Regions from separate parts of the Homo sapiens genome. Here region 1 is linked to region 2. The links come from fine-mapping of genetic effects on gene expression. A gene starts in region 2. The other region holds a variant in brackets. All regions are shown on one strand. Distances are from middle to middle.

Evidence for each region. PIP is the estimated chance that this variant, and not a neighbour inherited with it, causes the effect. A credible set is the group of variants that fine-mapping cannot tell apart.
Region 1: its variant is the best candidate, but not a certain one, in a credible set for the expression of PPP1R14B in stomach (GTEx, PIP 0.86).

The regions. Positions count from the first base shown.
Region 1 is chr11:64,320,937-64,326,297 of GRCh38, forward strand. PRDX5 (peroxiredoxin 5) reads left to right here. Exons shown (of 6, transcript NM_012094.5): 5 at 71-132; 6 at 650-875. The coding sequence ends at 755. LOC102723878 (a long non-coding RNA gene) reads right to left here. Exons shown (of 4, transcript NR_188518.1): 4 at 4,114-4,395. Among named protein-coding and RNA genes, the nearest start is that of PRDX5, 5.5 kb to the left of the region's middle. RefSeq lists a silencer at 4,404-4,556. The variant T/C (reference allele first, on the strand shown) is at 3,374.
Region 2 is chr11:64,244,659-64,250,019 of GRCh38, forward strand. It overlaps PPP1R14B (protein phosphatase 1 regulatory inhibitor subunit 14B), which reads right to left and starts at 2,285. Exons shown (of 4, transcript NM_138689.3): 1 at 1,758-2,285; 2 at 546-629; 3 at 272-304; 4 at 1-164. The coding sequence starts at 2,015. The coding sequence ends at 96. PPP1R14B-AS1 (PPP1R14B antisense RNA 1) reads left to right here and starts at 1,208. Exons shown (of 2, transcript NR_135087.1): 1 at 1,208-1,431; 2 at 3,295-3,556. RefSeq lists silencers at 1,959-2,138, 2,859-2,998 and enhancers at 3,723-4,370, 4,371-5,016, 5,017-5,361.

The DNA of each region.
Region 1 (5,361 bases), 76 kb after region 2:
CAGTGCGGGGAGCAGTGGGGGCCCTTAGCCTCTTCAAGGATTTCTGACACTTTTCTCTGTCTCTTCTTAGGAGACAGACTTATTACTAGATGATTCGCTGGTGTCCATCTTTGGGAATCGACGTCTCAAGAGGTAAAAGTGGAGAGTCCTCTGTGGAGAGAGTCCTCTGTGGGAGAGAGTCCTCTGTGGGAGAGAGTCCTCTGTGGAGAGGGTCCTCTGTGGGAAGAGTCGTCTGTGGGGGAGAGTCCTCTGTGTGGGAGAGTCGTCTGTGGGGAGAGTCCTGTGTGGGGAGAGTCCTCTGTGGAGAGAGTCCTCTGTGGGGGAGAGTCCTGTGTGGGGGAGAGTCCTCTGTGGGGAGAGTCCTCTGTGTGGAGAGAGTCCTGTGTGGGAGAGAGTCCTGTGTGGGGAGAGTCTTCTGTAGGGGAGAGTCCTCTGGGGAGAGAGTCCTGTGTGGGGGAGAGTTCTCTGTGGGGAGAGTCCTCTGTGTGGAGAGAGTCCTGTGTGGTGGTGAGTCCTCTGTGGGGGAGAGTCCTCTGTGGGGGGAGTCCTCTCTGGAGTTCTCTTGGGCCCCTGGCTGTTCACTGCCTGTCTCCATGCCCAGCCTCCAAGCCCAGGCTGATGCAGCTGGCTGGGCCCCTCTTTCCGGCAGGTTCTCCATGGTGGTACAGGATGGCATAGTGAAGGCCCTGAATGTGGAACCAGATGGCACAGGCCTCACCTGCAGCCTGGCACCCAATATCATCTCACAGCTCTGAGGCCCTGGGCCAGATTACTTCCTCCACCCCTCCCTATCTCACCTGCCCAGCCCTGTGCTGGGGCCCTGCAATTGGAATGTTGGCCAGATTTCTGCAATAAACACTTGTGGTTTGCGGCCATCTCCTTGGTTATGAATGGCTGTTTCGCTGAGCGCCAGGCATTCTGGCATCATCACAGACTGGGTGAGAATGGTGAGGGCGCAGATGGGCTGAAAGGGAGAATGTAGGGGGTCCTGCTTAATTAAGGGGGAGCTAGGGAGGGCCTTTCAAGGGAAGTTTTTTTTTTTTTTTTTTTTTGAGACAGTTTCACTCTGTCCCCTAGGCTGGAGTGCAGTGGCATGATCTCGGCTCACCACAACCTCTGCCTCCCAGGTTCAAGCGATTTTCCTGCCTCAGACTCCCCAGTAGATGGGATTACAGGTGTCTGCCACCACGCCCGACTAAGTTTTTGTATTTTTGGTAGAGACGGGGTTTCACCATGTTGGCCAGGCTGGTCTCGAACTCCTGACCTCAGGTGATCACCCGCCTCCACCCCCCAAAGTGCTGGGATTACAGGTGTGAGCCACTGTGCCCAGCCTTGAGGCAGGTGTTACTGAGCACTGAGAAGGAGCCAGCAATCTGAAGAGGAAGGGAAGAAGCGCTCCCCACAGAGGCAGCACAGAGGGCGAGGCCTGGCCGATGGCATGTGGCGCACAGTGTGGCCTTTGTACCTGCTCTCTGGGTGCTGCCTGATGCCATTTAGTCTGGAAACCCCATGGCGGGAAGCTTGGCTCCCAGCATTCCTGCCGGGGCCCAGCCCCACCATCCTTTCAGACTTGACCCCCTCCTGGGCACACCCTCATCCCAGGAAGAGCTCAGGTCACTTTAGGACCATCTGATGGACAGGGAGAGGGGCTCTGGCACAGCACTTGCTCATTCCAGGAGGGCTCCCTGGGGGAAGAGTCTAGGTGAGCTGTGGAGGGGAGAAGATGCTGGTGAGGCCTGACCAGTGGTGGCTGGGTGTGAGGGGCCTCAAGTGGGGACACCAGCAGGGTGTGGGGATGGGGGCCATTGCCACGGCAGGCCCTGCTCCTGGGCCTCTGCCCCTTGGTGCAGGGAAGCCACGCCTGTGATGGTGAGGCCCCACTGCGTGGAGTCTAGGGGGCCTCTGTGCCCTGCGCGATGCTGCCTGCCTGCCCACCCCAGGTGTGGTAACAGCCCTCACAAGAATTGGTGAGGTGTGGACTGCTGCTGCCTCTCAGCCACCTACAGGGAGTCCGCATTCCATCACCGCGTGGAGCTGCCCTGCCATGAACCACATCAATACCTGGCTCCCAGGCACTTCCTGCGTAGTGGTCCCCAGGGGTCAGCCCCCACTGCTGACTCAGGCAGGCCACACTCTTGAGAGGTCAGGGAGAAGGTCAAAGCAGGGCCTCATAGAGCAAATGACCCTTGAGGCAGTGGGAGTGGCGCCTCAAGTGGGAGGCGGAGGGAGGCCCATAGCCCTAGGGGTGAGCCCCATAGCCCTAGGGGTGGAGGGTGGGACAATCCCATGCTGCCGCAGCAAGGTGGGTAGCAGGAGTAGGGGGGGAATGTTGGGGACAAGAGAGGATGCCTGGAGGTCAGTGGGCTCTCTGAAGCTGATGAGCAGCTTGCCTTCCACCCTACAGGCACCTTGGCCATGGGCTACCGTGTGCAGCCCCCAAGCTGGGAGGCTGGGAGAGGCACCAGATGGGCAGCAGGGAGCAGGACCCATGATGACAGCAATGCCCAGGAGGTGGAGGTGGAGATGTGTTGGGAGGGAGGGTGCATCCAGGGAGCTGCTTGCTGAAGGTGGAGGGGCTGGGTGCTTGTGGTCACGTCTGTGAGAACAGACACTCAGTAGGAGGGGAGCCAGCCTCCCTGCCCAGGGTTGCAGGTGCTCAGCCTACCCGAGTCGTGCTGCCCACCAACCTCTGTCACTGTGGTTCTCTCCCACAACCTGCCACCCCTTCAGGGGTCCCAGGTGGGGGCAGGGAAGGAGGCTGACTGCACCTCGAGCTGCCCTGGTAAACTGCCTGCCTCTCCTCTCCTGCCAAACTCGGGGGTACAGTGTTGTCCTCATGGACACGCATAACACAAAGCCCCTTTCTTTCCCGGATACCACCTCTTTATCCTCTCATCATACAAATGAGAAAACAGACGTGGAGCTTCCTACAGGGCACCTGTGAGCTAATGAGTGTCTCCATTAGTAAATAGGGGGTGGTGGTAGCAAATAGCCCACCCCACTGGCTGTGCACCCCACGCTACCCAGGCAGCTCCCTGCTATCGGGGAAGCCCAGCTCCGTCTCTGTCACTCTGCTGCCTGTTTCCTCTGCTCCTGGGCTATTATCTGGGCTGGCTGAGGCCAAGCAAGGCCTCTAGAGGAAGTGTCCCCTCCAAGGTCTGTTGCCACTGGCTGGGCCTCTAGGAAGGGTTGAGAGGGCTTCCAGGGCTGGGGTGGCCCTCTAGGACAGCCTGGTGTGGGTGGCGGTGGGGCTGTGGCCTCAGTGGCCCTGACTGCTGAGCATGTGGCTGAGCTTGCTGGAGTGAGGACGTCCTTGGGTGGGGGCACGGAGGACTGGCCCTGGAAGCTGCTCCAGGCCCTGGAGGGCCCAAGA[T/C]TAAACAGCACCTGGCAAGAGAACCTTGCATAGCTGTCTCCAGGTTGGACAGGTGGGGCTTCAGGCCTGGAGATAAGGGCAGACCAGGCCACGGTGTCCTGGACCAGAGAGCCCTGGACATCTGGGCTGCACCTGGCAGAGCTGTGCGTGTGGCCTTCCTGGGCTCTTGGTGGCCGAAAGACCAATGTTAAAAAACATAACAGGCCAGGCGGGGTGGCTTACACCTGTAATCCCAGCACCGTGGGAGGCCAAGGCGGGTGGATCATTTTAGGTCAGGAGTTTGAGACTAGCCTGGCCAACATGGAGAAATCCCATATCTACTAAAAATACAAAAATTACTTGGGCATGGTGGCGCATGTCTGTAATCCCGGCTACTGGGGAGGGAGGCTGAGGCAGGAGAATTGCTTGAACCTGGGAGGTGGAGGTTGCAGTGAGCCGAGATCGTGCCACTGCATGCCAGCCTGGGAGACAGAGCAGGAGTCTGTCTCAAAAAAAAAAAAAAAAAAAAAAAAAAGAAAAGAAGCTGAAACATCCACCCAACAACACATGCCCCAGTGAAACTCACTTGCCTGTCCTAGCATGCCCAAGGCCATAGCAACTGAGACCAGAAGGCCAAGGGTGTTACTCAGCATCAGTGGTTCTGGGCCTTCCTGGGTCTAGAGTCCCTTTGAAACGCAGCTGAACAGACCCCAACATGAGCCTGAAGAGTGTTGACCTAAAAGGAAGAAGCCTAGGCAAAATTAATATCAGCGGAGACTTTATTTGGGCCAAGCTTGAGGATTGCATCCCAGGAGCACAGATTCAAGTTGCCCTGAATATACACTCCGATTAGCAGAAGTTGAAATGGATTTTAAAAGGACAAGAGAGCTCCTGAGTTGTTTACTAAGAATTTACATTAAAATAACAAACTGGCTGGCTGCAGTGGCTCAGGCCTGTAATCCCGGTTCCTCTGGCAGCTGAGGTGGAAGCATTGATTCAGGCCAGTTTGAGACCAGCTTGGACAACATAGCAAGACACCGTCCCTACAAAATAAATAAATAAATAAATAAGTAAATATATAAATAAGTTGTCGTAGTGCATGCCTGTGGTCGTAGCTACTCAGGAGGCTGAGGCGGGAGGATCGCTTGACACCAGGAGTTGGTGACTAACTACAGTTAGTGAGCTATAATCGTGCCACTACCCTCCAGCCTGGGTGACAGAGCGAGACCTTGTCTCTAAAAAAATAAAAATAGGCCGGGTGTGGTGGCTCACACCTATAATCCCAGCACTTTGGGAGGCTGAGGTGGGCGGATCACCTGAGGTCGGGAGTTCGAGACCAGCCTAACCAACATGGAGAAACCCCGTCTCTACTAAAAATACAAAATTAGCCAGGTGTGGTGGCTCATGCCTGTAATCCCAGCTACTCGGGCGGCTGAGGCAGAAGAATCACTTGAACCTGGGAGGCGGAGGTTTTGGTGAGCCAAGATCTCACCACTGCACTCCAGCCTGGGCAACAAGAGCCAAACTCTGTCTCAAAAAAAAAAAAACCCAAAACAAAAACAACTAAATAAAAATAAATTAGTGACACCCCGTCTCTACCAAAAAAATAAAATAATTGGGTGGGTGTGGTAGCACGTGCCTATAGTTCGAGCTACTCCAGAGGCTGAGTTGGGAAAATCACTTGAGCCCAGGAGGCCAAGACTGCAGTGAGTTATGATTATGCCACTGCACTCCAGCCTGGGTAATAGAGCAAGACCCTGCCTCAAAAAAAAAAAAAAAAAAAAAAGGCTCAATAAAAGGTTATTTGAAAGATAAAAATCAGGCCAGGCATGGTGGCTCACGCCTGTAATCCTAGCACTTTGGGAGGCTGAGGTGGGCGGATCACCTGAGGTCAGGAGTTTGAGACCAGCCTGGCCAACATGGTGAAACCCCATCTCTACTAAAAATACAAAATTAGCCAGGCATGGTGGTGCCATGCCTGTAGTCCCAGCTACTTGGGAGGCTGAGAC
Region 2 (5,361 bases):
GCCTGGCCGCAGGGTCCCCCGGTATTGCTGTTGCTACGAGGTTGGGGGGCAGCGATTGTCCTGTGGGAGCCACCGTTCTCCTGGGTCGGGGACCGTCACTTCTTCTGGGGTGTGCTCAGCTTCTGCATGCCCCGGATCTTGTCCAGCAGGCCAGAAATGAAGGCCTGGATGGGGTGGGAGGGTAAACATTAAGGAGACCAGACCCCAAGATGACAGGAGCCGGGCTCCCCTCACCCTGCCACCCCCGCCAGCCCCCCAGGAAATCTCTTACCTCTGTGGGTTTGTAACAGTCAACCAGCAGCTCCTAGCAGAGGATGGGGGAGGAAGGATAAGTGAGTCCTCAGGAGTGGGGGCCTGGAGCTCGCCTATACCCACTTCCAAGAGACTGGGGCCACCCTGAGGCACAGGAGATGCCACAACAACCTCACAGCTAGGCATTGGCCCCATTCTGTTGAGGCAGGAGCTGGGGCTTGAGGGCCTGGCTCCACAGCCTCACTTTCCCGGGGCAGTGCCTCAGGCAACCCATCGCCCCCCAGCCCCCTCACCTTGACCCTGGCAGCCCGGGCATCGTCACTCTCCATGTCCAGGAGCTCATCCACGTCAATCTCCAGTTCTGGGATCTCCTCTTCCTGGGGTGGGGGTGGGGGAGGAGGGAGAGACATAAGCCTGAGTTGGAGAGAGGGTGTGAGAGGGGCTCTGGGTTGAGGCCCCTGCCTACCTCGGAGGAACCCAGCCCTCTGCCCAGCAGACAGAACAGCAGCTGCTCTGGGGAGGAAAACAGATCAGGCCCGTGCCAAGGCAAACTGCCCAAAGCGGGGTGGGGGGGGGAGCTTCCTGTCCCTGCCAGTGGGCACGGGGGGTGACAGACAAGGCCAGACAGCCAGGGTTGGGGACCTTGGGCTGGGAACCCAGCAGATGTGTCTCCCCAACATCCGGGCCCCCCATCTCACCAGAGCACCGGTGGGTGCAGCTGTCCCAGCTTATCATACCCCCCTCCCCTCCCCCAAACACCTGTCACAGCTCCCCGGGAGTGAGGAGGAAGTGAAGGCTGAGGGGTCACTGGGAAGGACCCAGGCCTGGCAAAGAGGAAACAAAGAGCCCATGCTTTGGTGAGGGAGGGGATGCCCACCACCCTGCCACACCCTCCCCAGGAAGCCCCTATCCTGTTTGTAGTCAGCTGCATTCCAGGGCTGGGCTAGGGTAGGCAGGCAGCACCGGGCAAACCCACTCCTCCACCCTGCCCCCCGGGGCCTGAGTCACCGTCTGAACAACCAGGGAGTCATGGGGGTGGAGAAGCAGAGCCCAGAAAGCGGGCTAGCCTGCACGCACGCCAAGATGGAGCTCCAGGCTAGCCCACAGAACAGCCCAGCCGCAGCCGTCCTACCAGACCAGCACCTTGTAACCACAGTCTAACCCAGCGGGCACCAGGCGGTGAGACCTCCTGCCGCTGCCAGCCCAGGATAGCCCCCTTGCCTCTTGCCCAAGGCTCAGGCTACCCCTTGAGGCGTCTGGAGGACACTAGGCTTGACCTGGGGAGTGGCATGATGGGGGGCAGGGTCCGAGGCAACGGAGAAGGCAGAAGTGACTTAGGTCAGGCAAGAAAGAGTATATATTGGGGGCGGGAGTGCAGAGGGGAGGGGAGCGCGCGGGGAAGCAAAGCGCCCTTTGACTCCAGTGACAGGCGAGCTCACAGTGGAGCTGCCAGGCGGACCGGCGCGAGACCGATTTTGGGGTGTCGGCGCGGGGTGGGAACACACCTGGCAGTCGTAGAGGCGCGTGAGCTGCTCCAGGATCCACTCCTCTAGGTTGAGGCGCTTCCGTAGCTCCTTGCGGTCATACTTGACGGTGACCTTCCCTTGGCGCCTCACTGGGCCCTCATCGTCCGCCCCGCCCGGGCCCTCTCCTGCGGCCCCGGGGGGGCTCTGAAAGTAGACGCGTGGTCCTGGGCCGCCACTGCCCGGCCCGGGGGCCGGGGCCGCCAACGCCGCGCCCCCCGCGGTGCCGCTGTCCGCCATGGCGGCCGCCGGGGCCACGTGCGAGCGTCGGGCCCCTCCCTGCGCCACCGCCTCCGGGACGCCCGCCGGCTGGCTCGGGTTAGCTCGCCGGCTCCGCTCCGCGCGGCTCCGCGGCGAGGGCGGCGGCGGGGGCGCCCGGGGGCAGCTGCAGCATGCGGAGCCCCCGGGCTTGGCCTGGCCGCGCCCCGCCCCCTCCCCGCCGATCCGCCCGCCCTTTGTCCCCCGCGGCCGCCGCCCGAGCTGCAGCCGCCGAAGCGCTTTCTCTGTCTCGCTCTTCCTCCGCCCCCCGACCACACCCCCTTAAAGGGCCAGCCCCTCTACAGGCCCCTCTCCCCTACTCCGCCCCCGGGCAGGGGTAGGGGAGGGTCTATTCGGCAGGGGGTGGCCTAGCTGTCCGTACTCCCCAAACGCAACCTTCCAGTCCCAAACCCAGGCGTTCTAAGCGCTCAGGACGACGATTTGCGCTCACGCCAGGACCCTAGTCTTCATTGGACCCTTCCTCATTCTGTCCTCATTGAGGCCATCTGAGAATAGGGGCTATCTGAGAATGCAGGGGAGTGGACATCGTGTGCAGACAGGGAGTCTGGTGAGGAGACGCTGCGGTCCCCGATGTCCAGGTCCTCCAGCCCTCGGCCAGCGAGGAGCGAACGGGCTCCTCCGCACGGACCGACACGTGGACTGGGCTCCTGGGAAAGGAAGAGTGGAGAAGGCGGGCAGGAGCTGTCCGGGTCCCTAGACTCTCCGAGTAGCAGGTCCCACGCCCCCAGCGGAAGAAGCCGGGGCTGGGGGTGAGCGGTGGCACCCGGCCGGCCCAAACGGCCAACCCCGGGCAGCCACCGCCCACCGGCAAGATGGCGCGAGGCTCGGGCTTGTGGGAAACGGAGTCCGCTCCCGGCGCCGCCCCTCCCCCGCCCTGCGGCCAGGCCGGGAAGCGCAAAGTTGTTTGGGGCGTCCTCTGCGCCTCGCGACCCGAGTGCGCACAGAGGGGGAAACTAAGGCGCAAAGAGCTGGGCAGTGCGGGGGCCGCGACTTATAATAATAAAGGCGGTAATTGCGGCTGACCCTAGGAGCGTGCGTCGGGACCGCCGCCCAGTCGGCTCCGCAGAGAGGGCGCCGTGCCGGGGCTCCTGCACCCCCGCCCTGCGGCTCCTCGGTCCTTCACATAGCCCTGGCCCACCTCCAATAAGCCGACGGCGCATCCCATTCCCTCCCTCTATTTTATTTTCTGCATCTTTAAATGGTCTCATTCATTCGTGTATTGTCTGTCTCCCACTTCTAGATTGTGAGTGCCACGGGGCTGAGGCCTGCGCCGACCTGGTCTGCTGGTGCTACCAGGCTTGAACAGTCTTCAAATCCACTGCTATTAGGCAAATTACCTGGCTCCCGCTGAACTCCAGCACCTAGAACTATGTCACACTCGTAGTAGGCCGCTGCATTGGTTGAACAAATGATTTTGAAAGAATGAATGTCTTCCTCTGTGCCTGCATTTCCTCAGAAGGCTGTAACAAAGATTAAATAGGAAAATTCGTGGAAAGTTCAATTACTACACCACAGAGGTTAATTAAGTCGCACTGCTAGATAAAACGGGAGACGAGACTTTGAACCCAGGCTGTGTGGCTCAAACCCCCTGACACGAAGTCTCTACTCAACCTCCTCACTACCCTGTAGACACCACCCAATAAGGCTGCGCAGCTCCCGGGGGATGTTTCTGTGGAAGGCAGGCTCACCTTGTGCCACCCCAAACAGGGTCTTGGATCTGAGAGGCAATGTTTCTGCTCCAGCCCCTCAAAGACACTCTTTGGATGTTGTGGGGGGAAGCCCTCTGCAGCGGGTGGGGTTCAGAGATGGATTGGGATTGGCCCCGGGGTCACACAGCTGGGGCTGCATCCAAACTCCAACCCAGGATGTTGGGCTCCTCCTTTGCCCTATAGTCAGAGAGAAGAGACCAAGAGAAGACAGAGGCTGGGCATTGTGAAGGCAATGGGCTCACAGGGCTCAGTTCAGGGAAGGGTAGAGTGAGCTGACCCCTCCCCTTCCCGTGCCCCTCCTCCGGCCTCAGCCTCCCTTCAGCCAGTCTGGGTGCCGAGGAAGGGCTGACCCTCGCTCTTGCGGATTAGGTAGGATCCACCCTCTCCACCGGGAGCCCTATCCGTGGCCTGGCCTCCTGCCCTAAGCCTGGCCTGATAGGAGGATCACTTTACCCCAGTCCAAATTCCCCACCACACCCCACCAGGCCAGGCCAGCTCCCTCTGAACCCAAGCATTGTTTGTACCTTGAGGGTGCACACAGATTAAAGGGGGAAGACCCTCAAACAGCCCCTAATGCCCAACAGCTTCTGTGGAAGTGGGGCCTGCAGGCCATGAAGACCCCCAGCCCTAGCTCTGCCCCCAAGATGCTGTGACCCTGAGCCCTGACCTTTCTGTCTGTCCTCCCTCAGGGTTGGTGTGAAGGTCTCCAGCCATGTCCGTGTCCACAGGTCAGGCATTCTTTCTGACTCTCCCTCTTCCCCCCACCGCGCCATGCCCAGGCACACCCAGATTCCTGTCCAGTTCCCATGGCTATCCACCCGAGACCACTTGGTGCAGGTGGGCATGCTGGCCTGCCACCTTCTTGGAAGCTGGGCCACAGAACCTTAGCCTTGGAGTAGAAATACTGGGTTCAAATCCTGGCTCTGCCCCATGGGCTGAGAGGCTGTATGCAAGTCACTTACCTGCTCAGAGCCTCTTCAGGGGGCTTATGGTCCTGACCTCCTGTGGTTGGGGGCCCATGCCCAGCCCTGGCCCTCCTGCCTGAGCCCTACTGGGACTGGAGTGTACCACTGCTCCTCCTCCTTCTAGCCTCAGTCTGTGGCCTCCCCAGCCCTACCCCTTCCAGGGCCCCAGCCCCCCTCCATTAGAGTGCATCCTTGAAGCAGAGGCTCTGGGGAGGGTCCTGTGGGTCAAGACCGCTCCTTCAATCAAGGGTAGAGTCCGGAAAGGCTGCCTGCCTTCACCATTACTGCCTGCTGAGATACCCTATTACCATTACCAAGGATGGAAGAAAGTGTCTGGGAAGGAAGGAGCCCTGTAATGGGGGCTGCCCTGGCCTCCAGAGACACAGGGTTGGGGGAGGAGAGAGGCTTAAGCCCAGGAAACAGGTGCCCATCCTGTTTTTTTCCACAAGGAGCTGCTGCCCAATGCTTCTCTAAAGTACGCTTGCACAAGGCCTAGGGCCCACAGCTCAGATCCCCTAAGCTCAGGCCTTGGCTCCAGGCTTTGCTAGCCCTGGCACAAGCTGGAGGTTCCACTGCCCCAGAGCTGACCTATGCCCTTTCCTCCCTCCCTGGTATACCCACAGCTTCCAGCTA